3 linked regions of the Homo sapiens genome follow. The protein of the gene in region 1 purifies or fractionates together with the protein of each later gene. This does not show direct contact. Each region holds a gene or a part of one and is shown in the gene's direction. Other genes may lie near its edges.

Region 1 (3,752 bases):
TATAATTATGTATGCATATAATATGTGCAAAGTAGTAATGTTCATCAAGTTGTAAACAATGGTTATCTCTGGACTAGGATTCCAAATGACCTTTCCCCTATTTTTTTTGAGACAAGTCTCACTCTGTTGCCCTAGCTGGAATGCAGTGGTGCAATCATGGCTCACTGAAGCCTCAACCTCCTGAGCTTAAGCAATCCTCCCGCCTCAGCCTCCCAACGTGCAGGGATTACATGCATGAGCCACCACGCCCAGACTAAATATGTGTTAAACTAAAGCAGAAGCATCATTACCCGAGTAGGCTCTATAGGAGGAAAGAGGAGACAAGTGAGGAAAGGAGAGAGAATGAAAAAAAGAGACTTAAATTGTAAGCATTGAAGGTTAGGATGGGAAGGCGATTCGCATTTAAATCTCAGGACCCCATTTAGGCTTCTACCTCCCTGACCGCTGGGAGGCTGGTTGCTTTTCACCCCTCTGGGTTCACTTCTATTTGTCTGTGAGCTGTCAGCATCCTTCCCCACTTGTCTTGCCCTGCCTCTGCCAGGGAGGCAGAGTTGGGAGTCGTGGCACAGGCATGCACGCTGTGCAGCCTCCCACACCTGCACCCTGAAAGACCAACAGACACCCTAAGAAACCTGATACACAAGCACAAACTGATAAGATACCCAAAAAGTCAAAGGCAGACAGCAAAACATGGCTAATATTACACAGTACTGCAAGAGAAAGTAACACCAAAACAAAACAAAACACAGACATCATCTCTCAGTTCCTTCTCAAATAAAAAAAAAAGGCCAGGTGCAGTGGCTCACACCTGTAATCCCAGCACTTTTGGAGGCCGAGGTGGGCGGATCACTTGAGGCCAGGAGTTTGAGACTAACCTGGCCAACCATGGCCAACATGGTGAAATCCCCCTATCTCTACTAAAAATATAAAAAATTAGCCGGGCGTGGTGGCTGGCACCTGTAATCCCAGCTACTGAGAGGCTGAGGCAGGAGAACTGCTTGAACCTGGGAGGTGGAGGTTGCAGTGAGCTAAGATTGTACCACTGCACTCCAGCCTGGGCAACAGAGTGTGACTCTGTCTCAAAAAAAAAAAAAAAAAAAGGGTGGGTGAGGTGGTGGCTCACACCTGTAGTCCTAGCACTTTGGGAGGCCAAGGTGGAAGGCTCTCTTGAGGCTAGGAATTCGAGACCTGCCTGGACAACAGACAGAAACACTGTCTCTACAAAAAATAAAAAAACTAGCTAGGTGTGGTGGTGTGTGCCTGTAGTCCCAGGTACTTGGGAACCTGAGCAGGAGGACTGCTTGAGACCAGGGAGCTGGGCCTGCAGTGAACCATGGTTATGCCCCTGCACTCCAGATAGGGTGAAATGGGTAGTTTTTCACTTGATCTCCTCCTCATTGTCTCTTACGTTTAAACAAGTCTCAAACCTGGTGCAGAGGTGCATGTACCTCCATTGCTGGACAAGGCCTGACTTTTGCCTGCTGGTAGGGCCTCCTCAGTTCTAACCAGCCTTCTGTGACCTCATTCTCTATCCTGGTTCCATTTTCCACTTTGTGACTTCATCAGTTAAAGATCCCATTTCAGCCACCAAGGTTGAGAGGCCCCAAGACCCAGTTCCTTTACAGAATCAACCCTGGGGTGGCTTTAGGACTGGGCTCTTTGGAGCTCATCCTTGGACCCACAGTGGAGTGCTGGTCCGTGCTGATGTCTTCAGATACCAATCAATGGGCATTTGGCTCCTTGCTTCCACTGACCTCTTGAGTACTTTCAACGATCGGTGTCAGGAGTGCCCCAGCTGCTGTTTCTAGAGCATCTCTGCAACCCACGGTGGCCTCTCCTCTCTCTGCGGGCCATGGACAGCACAGTCCCTTCAGCCCTGGAGCTGCCCCAGCGGCTGGCACTGAACCCAAGGGAGAGCCCGAGGAGTCCAGAAGAGGAGGAGCCCCACCTGCTGAGCAGCTTGGCTGCAGTCCAGACCCTGGCCAGTGTCATCCGGCCTTGCTATGGCCCCCACGGCCGGCAGAAGTTCCTGGTGACCATGAAAGGAGAAACAGTGTGCACGGGGTGTGCCACTGCCATCCTCAGGGCCCTGGAGCTGGAGCACCCAGCAGCATGGCTCCTCCGGGAAGCAGGACAAACCCAGGCAGAGAATAGTGGGGACGGCACAGCCTTCGTGGTTCTGCTGACGGAAGCCTTGCTGGAACAGGCAGAGCAGCTGCTGAAGGCTGGCCTGCCTCGCCCGCAGCTCCGGGAGGCCTACGCCACGGCCACTGCAGAGGTCCTGGCCACACTGCCCTCCCTGGCCATCCAATCTCTGGGGCCTTTGGAAGATCCATCCTGGGCCCTCCATTCTGTGATGAATACCCACACCCTGTCCCCCATGGACCACTTGACCAAGCTGGTGGCCCACGCCTGCTGGGCTATCAAGGAACTAGACGGCAGCTTCAAGCCTGAGCGTGTTGGGGTGTGCGCGCTGCCCGGGGGGACACTGGAGGATTCCTGCCTCCTCCCGGGGTTAGCAATATCTGGGAAGCTCTGTGGGCAAATGGCCACAGTGTTAAGTGGTGCCAGGGTGGCTCTCTTTGCTTGCCCCTTTGGTCCTGCCCATCCAAATGCACCAGCAACGGCCCGTCTTTCTAGTCCTGCTGATCTAGCTCAATTTAGTAAAGGAAGCGATCAATTACTAGAAAAGCAAGTAGGCCAGCTAGCAGCTGCAGGAATTAATGTGGCAGTGGTGTTGGGGGAGGTCGACGAGGAGACCCTCACACTGGCGGACAAGTATGGCATCGTGGTGATTCAAGCTAGGTCTTGGATGGAGATCATTTACCTGAGTGAGGTGTTGGACACACCTCTGCTGCCTCGTCTGCTCCCTCCCCAGAGGCCAGGCAAGTGCCAGAGGGTTTACAGGCAGGAGCTGGGAGATGGTTTGGCTGTGGTATTTGAATGGGAATGTACAGGCACACCTGCCCTCACTGTGGTTCTCAGGGGAGCCACCACCCAGGGGCTGCGGAGTGCAGAGCAGGCCGTCTACCACGGCATTGATGCCTATTTCCAGCTATGTCAAGATCCCAGACTGATTCCAGGAGCTGGGGCCACAGAAATGGCTTTGGCAAAAATGCTTTCTGATAAAGGAAGCAGATTGGAAGGGCCCAGTGGGCCTGCATTCCTAGCATTTGCCTGGGCCCTGAAGTATCTTCCTAAAACTTTGGCAGAGAATGCAGGCTTAGCTGTCTCAGACGTGATGGCAGAAATGAGTGGAGTGCACCAAGGTGGGAACCTCCTAATGGGTGTGGGAACTGAAGGGATAATAAATGTGGCCCAGGAAGGGGTGTGGGACACCCTAATAGTCAAAGCCCAAGGATTTCGAGCAGTGGCTGAGGTGGTGCTACAGCTCGTGACTGTAGATGAAATCGTAGTGGCCAAGAAAAGTCCCACACATCAGGAGATCTGGAATCCTGACTCTAAGAAGACAAAGAAACACCCACCTCCTGTGGAAACAAAAAAAATCCTTGGATTGAATAACTAGTGATACCCTCAATAAAACAGGGATTGCCAAGAAGGGAACAATCACCCCAAAAATGAATGTTTGCCTTTATTCCGTGTTTGGTACTTGATTCACTTTCTTTAAATAAAAACATGAAGGAACATAAAATTTCTTTTCATGCGCTTAGTTCCTTTCCAGTTCTCGACTTTTTTTGTTTTTTTTTTTTGAGAGACGGAGTCTTGCTCTGTTGCCCAGGCTGGTGTGCAGT
Region 2 (3,652 bases), on another chromosome or scaffold:
GCCAGGGCTGCCTCAAAGCATATTACATCCACAAGATGTGGCATACCTGCAAGACATGCCACGGTCACCAGGAGATGTGCCACAGTCACCAAGTGATGTTTCACCGTCACCAGATGCACCACAGTCACCAGGGGGCATGCCACACTTACCGGGAGATGTGTTACATTCACCTGGAGACATGCCACACTCATCAGGGGACGTGACACACTCACCTAGAGACATCCCTCACTTACCAGGAGACAGGCCTGACTTTACCCAGAATGATGTACAGAACCGTGACATGCCTATGGATATCTCAGCTCTGTCCTCTCCAAGCTGCTCTCCCAGCCCACAGTCTGAAACTCCCTTAGAGAAAGTTCCTTGGCTCTCTGTCATGGAAACCCCAGCCAGAAAAGAAATATCACTGTCAGAGCCTGCCAAACCTGGGTCTGCCCACGTACAATCACGAACACCACAAGGTGGGTTGTACAACAGACCATGCCTGCATAGACTGAAGTACTTCTTACGTCCTCCGGTTCATCACCTCTTCTTTCAGACGCTAATACCGGATAAAGACACAAGAGAGGTGAGCTAACATCTTCCCTCAGGGATTAGGTGTCCTTTCCCTAGGCCTAGGAGAAGGTCAGTGTGACTGGAGTCCATGCGTGAGAGGACAGGTCAAGCATAAATGAAATTTCTTATCTTTCCTCCACTTGTGAAGACCCATTCAGTGTAGAGGCCCAGATCTGGGTTCAAATTTTAGCCCCACGCTTAAAAACTGTCACTTTACTTTTTTTTTTTTTTTTTTTTTTGAGACCGAGTCTTGCTCTGTCTCCCAGGCTAGAGTGCAGTGGCACAATCTTGGCTCACTGCAACCTCCGCCTCCCAGGTTCAAGAGTTTCTTCTACCTCAGCCTCCCTAGCAGCTGGGACTACAGGCGCATGCCGCCATGCCCGGCTAATTTTTTTTTTTTTTTTTTTTTTTTGAGATGGAGTCTCGCTCTGTCGCCCAGGCTGGAGTGCAGTGGCACGATCTCCGCTCACTGCAAGCTCCGCCTCCCGGGTTCACGTCATTCGCTTGCCTCAGCCTCCCGAGTAGCTGGGACTATAGGCGCCCGCTACCACGCCCAGCTGATTTTTTGTATTTTTAGTAGAGACGGGGTTTCACAGTGTTAGCCAGAATGGCCTCGATCTCCTGACCTCGTGATCCACCCGCCTCGGCCTCCCAAAGTGCTAGGATTACAGGCGTGAGCCACCGCGCCTGGCACGCCCGGCTAATTTTTTGTATTTTAGTAGAGACAGGGTTTCATTGTGTTAGCCAGGATGGTCTTGATCTCCTGATCTTGTAATCCACCCGCCTCAGCCTCCCAAAGTGCTGGGATTACAGGCATGAGCCACCGCGCCCAGCAGGGCACTTTACCTTTTTAAGCCTTAGCTTTCCTATCTGTAAAATGGAAGTAATAACATACCTCACAGGGTCATACGTGAAAGTGTCAGGGTGTCAGGCTCATCGTAGGCCTTATGTAAATTCTTATCTTCTAGCTGGATGTGGTGGCATGCACCTGTAATCCCAGCTACTCAGGAGGCTGAGGCAGGAGAATCACCTGAATCTGGGAGGCGGAGGTTGCAGTGAGCTGAGACTGCACCACTGCACTCCAGCCTTGGCCACAGAGCAAGACTCTGTCTCAAAAAAATAAATAAATGTTTATCTTCAACTCCTATGCTTTTCCCTTCCTGGTGCCCTTATTACAGCTTCTATATCACAGAGATAATAATACTCTATCACTTATGGGCCTCCAAAATTATTACTTGCTGACTTTGGGGGAGGAAATTCAATATTAAGACATGAGTGGGAATGCTCCTTTCCATTGGTCATCATTGATTTATGAGAAGTAAACTAGATGTGTTAGGGAAAATAACTGGCTAAGTTCCACCGTATGAAGTGTTTTTTAGTTATGTACATCCCATCCCCCATATTAAGAAAACCAGCTTGAAACAGTTCAGTGTCAAAAGGTATGCTCTCCTCATTCAAGCAGTGATCCAGGTAGGCAGGAGCCAAGGATTCACACTGATTTGACCTTGGAGAATGATTTTTTTTCTCTTTTTTAAAATTATTACATCTTCTAATATGTTGTAGGTCTTCTCCTTCTTTATGCCTCTGCCTGACCACTAGCTCATTCTTTTTTTTTTGGGACAGAGTCTCACCCTGTCACCCAGGCTGGAGTACAGTGGTACGATCTCAGCTCACTCACTGCAACCTCCGCCTCCCAGGTTCAAGCGATTCTCCTGCCACAGCCTCCCGCGTAGCTGGGTTACAGGTGCCCGCTACCACTTCCGGCTTTTTGTACTTTTAGTAGAGACAGGGTTTCACCATGTTGTCCAGGCTTGTCTTGAACTCCTGACCTCAAGTGATCCGCCCACCTCGGCCTCCCAAAGTTCTGGGATTACAGGCGTGAGCCACCGCGCCCGGCCCAGACAGCATTTATTATTGTGAATAATTTGATGTCTTTCCTTCCCAGTTGCCTTTTTATACATAGGCATTTTACATATTTTAATAATTGGGATTTTTAACATATACACATTATTTTTGTTGTTTATGGGGAGTAGGGGTTGAGAGAATGGCTCTGAAGTTTACGCCACGTGTGTTTGAAACCAGCTTCTGCCATTTGTTGTATGACAAATGCTTACCCTCCAAATCTGTTTCTTTATTTATGAGATAGGAATAATAATAGTATGTATTTCCTAAGATTATTGTAAGAACTAGTTGAGGATCAATTAAGTGTTCAGTGCTGGGCGCAGTGGCTCACGCCTGTAACCCCAGCATTTTGGGAGGCCGTGGTCGGTGGATTGCTTGAGCCCAGGAGTTTGAGACCAGCCTGGGCAACATAGTGAAACCCCCTCTATAAAAAATTCAAAAATTAGCTGAATATGGTGGCACACACCTATATCCTAGCTACTCTGGAGGCTGAGGCAGGAGAATGGCATGAACCCGGGAGGCGGAACTTGCAGTGTGCCAGGATCACGCCACAGTGCTCCAGCGTGGGCGACACAGCGAGACCCCATCTCAAAAAAAAAAAAAATTAATTGTTTAAGGCCAGACATGATGGCTCACACCTATAATCCCAGCACTTTGGGAAGCCAAGACAGTCTTGATCACTTGAGTTCACAAGTTCGAGACCAGCCTGGGCAACATGGTGAAACCCCATCTCTACTAAAAATACTAAAAAAAATTAGCCAGGCATGGTGGCACACACCTGTAGTCCCAGCTACTTGGGAGGCTGAGGTGGGAGGATGGCTTGAGCCTGGGAGGCAGAGGTTGCAGTGAGCCATGATCATGCCACTGTGTTCCAGCCTGGGTGACAGAGCCAGACTTCATCTCAAAAAAAAAAAAAAAATTAAGAGCTCCAAATTTATTGTTATTAAACCCTCATATCAAACTTTAAAATTGTTTAATTCTAATTATAAAAGTAATAAGTGTGTTATGGAAAAATTGAAAAATATAGAAGAGCACATAGAGAAAAAATCACCACTAATTCTACCACCCACATAATAGAAAATCACTTTTCACATATTCTCTCGCAGTCTTTATATACATATTTTTTGGGGGAAGAAGCAACTTAATATTTACTGTTCGCACAAAAAAAAAATGGAATTCTTCTCCTAACAACAAAATG
Region 3 (3,652 bases), on another chromosome or scaffold:
GTACAGGGTGCTTACCCCCTCAAGAGGGTTGCCAAGGATTCTATTGCCATGTGTTGAGGAGTAGGAGCAAGGAGATAGAGCAGGACCAATGTTACAATAAGAACCCACTATTAACCCCCAAGAATCTGTCTTGTGAGGGAGATAAATAGTTATCATACATGCGATAAGTCCCACACCAGCACATGAAAAGATTAGAAGAACAAGAGAAGGGAAGAAACCTACTGACCTGTTTCAGGGTGGGATGCTTCATAAAGAGGATAACAGTTAAGCCACTAACAGTAATGCCTCTAATCTTGAATCTGTTACCTACTAGTTTTGTGTCCCTGGGCAGGTAACTTCATGTTTCCTTGCATCAGCTTACCTTTAAAATGAGAATAATGATAATTATCTAACAGGGTCCTTACTGAGGATTCTGTGAGATAATGCATGGAAAGAGCTTAAGTCCATGCCCAGGAAATACTAAGTGCTCAAAGTAAAGCATTTTTTTTTCCTTTTTTTATTACCTAGTCCCACAGAGCAATTTTTTTATATCAAGATTAGCTTTAAATTCAGAAGGAAAGGAATACTGAATGTCTCATTGCCAGTAACCTTATATTGATGCATGTTTGACTTGAGACATTTTTGAGTCTTTTTAATGTAATACAGGTTTCTGTTGAAAACAACACTGTTGTCAAAAAGTATGCATGAGCGTGTGTGTGTGTGTGTGTGTACACATGTGTACTTTAAGATGTCTGCAAACTAAATTTCATCTGAGAGTGAAATGGGATTTTGGAAGATAGTCAAAGGAGATTTAGTTATAAGGATTTTTTTTCCCCAAGTAATGGAATATACAGTCAACATATCATTATAAATTGATTTTATTTATTTATTTATTTATTTTTGAGACGGAGTCTTGCTCTGTCACCCAGGCTGCATCTTACATGATCTTGGCTCACTGCAATCCCCGCCTTCTGGGTTCAAGCAATTCTCGAGTCTCAGCCTTTGTACTAGCTGGGATTACAGGCACCCACCACCACGCCCAGCTAATTTTTTGTATTTTTAGTGGAGACGGGGTTTCGCCATGTTGGCCAGGCTGGTCTTGAATTCCTGACCTCAAGCGATCCACCCATCTCAGCCTCCCAAAGTGCTGGGATTACAGGCGTGAGTCACCGTGCGCGGCCACAAATTGATTTCTAAAATATGTGTAGATTGGTGTTCCTTCGGGCTAGTGTGGTAGGTCCTCAATCTTAAAGCTTCAGGAATCATCAGTATAGAAGCCTCAGCTTTTGAGTGAGTCTTCACATAGGCTGTTTTCTTTTCTCTAGGCTCTGTGATCCTCTACCTTATGATATAATAGTCGATCCAATGTGTGGAACTGGGGCAATACCAATAGAGGTAATCATATTTCTTTAGCTTTTAGATAAGAGTGATACATCCAGAATATTCTAGACCTAATGGGCAAATTAGACATAATGAAATCTCCATGGTTGGATCAGTGGACCCAAGAGTTTTAAAACAATTAACAATAGAAAGTGGAACTTTTTTGTAAAGAATGTAACTACTTATTTCAAAGAGCCATGTGCCACTGGCCTAGATACATTGTTAGTGACATCTATTCACTAGATTACAGAGGAAGCTGAGAATTACAAACTGCCGATGAGTCCTCTTTGTGTAACAGACAAGCTGGTAGACTTGAATGGGAAAAGATAATTGAAGGCATAAGCATAAACTGGAGGAAGGCAATTTTCTTCTCTGTAATCCACTTAAGTTCCTAGAGGGAATAAGTATAGTTGTAAAAAGGGGAAACTTATGAACATTACTTGGATTTTTTAGGAAGTCTAACAAGCTTAATACCAAATGCTCTTAGTTTTCAAAATTACCATGATATTGAGAGGACTCATAAAAACTGTGTAAAGCAAAGCAAGAAATGGAAAGGCATTTTCTAAATGGAGAATATTTCACAGTAGATTCCCCTTGAATAATCAGTATCATCTATATGTTTTTAAAGAATTTAGAAGAGGGAGCTCCCAGTAAAATCACTGAAGTTTGTGTGAAACATAGTAGTTCTTCCATATAGTATACTGACAGCCAATTTGAATAAACTGCAGGGAGACACAGCAGATTATATGATTGGGTAGAAACTGGACAGATGAGCAAGTCCAAAGCAAGCCCACAAGGGGAGAAATAATCCAAACTGTAATTAGAAAATGGTATCTGTTCTGGGAGTTAAAATCCAAGACTGAAATCATAGAAGTCTACATGTGACTGTGTTCCGTGAAAGCTAGAGAAATTACTGTGGCTTAAAGAGACTGCACAGTAAAAACCCAGTCCTTCTTGTGGCCAAGAAGGATTCTGGGAAGAAAGCAGAGTGTTGTTTTCTAGTATGAAATCATGATATGTGTATGAAATAGCAGGTAAGGTCACCGCATGTCAAGAAATACACAACAGAGCTCCGAGTAAAAATAAAGGCCGAAAAAAATTAAAACATGAAGTTTGAGCCATTTCCATGTAAGAGTAGACATGCAGATGTCAATGTAGAAAAACCTAAGCCGATATATGATCAAAATGAATAAAATTATGAATAAATTGACAAGGTATATATAAAGATTTGTTCACCAAAGTATAAAATACTTGATCTAGAATAATTTTTTTTTTTAATTTAGAAGTGTTATGCTATAAAACCCAATTCTTTCCAATGCTGAAAATCCAAATAGGTTTAGGAAAAAAAAAAAAGAATATTTGGGAATCGGAATCACTGAGAGCCTTCCTCAAACTCTAGGTCCCCTCTACATCCCCACCCACCCAAAATTCTGGGATACTTCAACTTCCCTTTTGTTTGATGTCATCGTAGGATTGTAGACAGGGTATGTTATCACCCTCAAGTGTCTGGGCAAAAGAAAAAGTTATGAAACACTGCACTCATGGATGAGAAGTATGTTACTGTTCACAAAGGAACACAAAGGTGTTTGCTACTCACCCCTAAGCAGAGGCAGACCTTTCCCGGCTTTCGTGTCAGAAACCTTCTGTTAATCTGCATAGAACATTGTTCAGGCCTAGGGTCACGTCACCTCATTCCACAAATGACATGTGACAGCTTGGTATTTATGTTCTGCTGACAGGTTTTTTATTTATAATTACAAAATCCTTCCAGTGATATGGTGGTTACCATTCAAAAGCCTATCATACAAAGGAAATTGCATTTTACTATTATTTTTTTGACCTGGGGTCTTGCTCTGTCAGCCAGGCTGGAGTGCAGTGGTGTAATCTCAGCTCCCTGCAACCTCTGCCTCCCTGTCTTAAGCCATTCTCCCACCTCAGCCTCTCGAGTAGCTGAGACTCAGGTGCACACCATCACACCCAGCTGATTTTTGTGTTTTTGTAGAGATGGGCTTTCACCATGTTCCCAGGCTGGTCTCAAACTCCTGGGCTCAAGAAATCCTCCTGCCTCAGCTTCCCAAAGTGCTGGGATTTCAGGTGTGAGCCACCATGCCCGGCCGGAAATAGCATTTTATTTTGCAATTTTCAAATATATCAGATTATGTAAACTCCCACAACCACAAATCTCAAATATTTTCAAACCGCATTAACTTAGAATTTAGTGTGCCAGACACTGCTGGATGAGGAACTGAATAAAATACTAGACCTGACCTCAGAGAGCTCCCAGGTTAGTTGA

Evidence for each region.
Region 2: the proteins of CCT8L2 (region 1) and SIMC1 purify together in Homo sapiens (affinity purification with mass spectrometry; one large-scale study listed by BioGRID and IntAct). This does not show direct contact.
Region 3: the proteins of CCT8L2 (region 1) and THUMPD3 purify together in Homo sapiens (affinity purification with mass spectrometry; one large-scale study listed by BioGRID and IntAct). This does not show direct contact.

What each region holds. Positions count from the first base shown.
Region 1 is NC_000022.11:16,590,651-16,594,402, reverse strand, and holds CCT8L2 (T-complex protein 1 subunit theta-like 2), read left to right. Parts: upstream 1-1,592; 5' UTR 1,593-1,852; coding exon 1,853-3,526; 3' UTR 3,527-3,652; downstream 3,653-3,752. UniProt on the Homo sapiens protein: Possible molecular chaperone; assists the folding of proteins upon ATP hydrolysis.
Region 2 is NC_000005.10:176,290,391-176,294,042, forward strand, and holds part of SIMC1 (SUMO-interacting motif-containing protein 1), read left to right. Parts: coding exon 1-565; intron 566-3,652.
Region 3 is NC_000003.12:9,376,515-9,380,166, forward strand, and holds part of THUMPD3 (tRNA (guanine(6)-N(2))-methyltransferase THUMP3), read left to right. Parts: intron 1-1,304; coding exon 1,305-1,374; intron 1,375-3,652. UniProt on the Homo sapiens protein: Catalytic subunit of the THUMPD3-TRM112 methyltransferase complex, that specifically mediates the S-adenosyl-L-methionine-dependent N(2)-methylation of guanosine nucleotide at position 6 (m2G6) in tRNAs.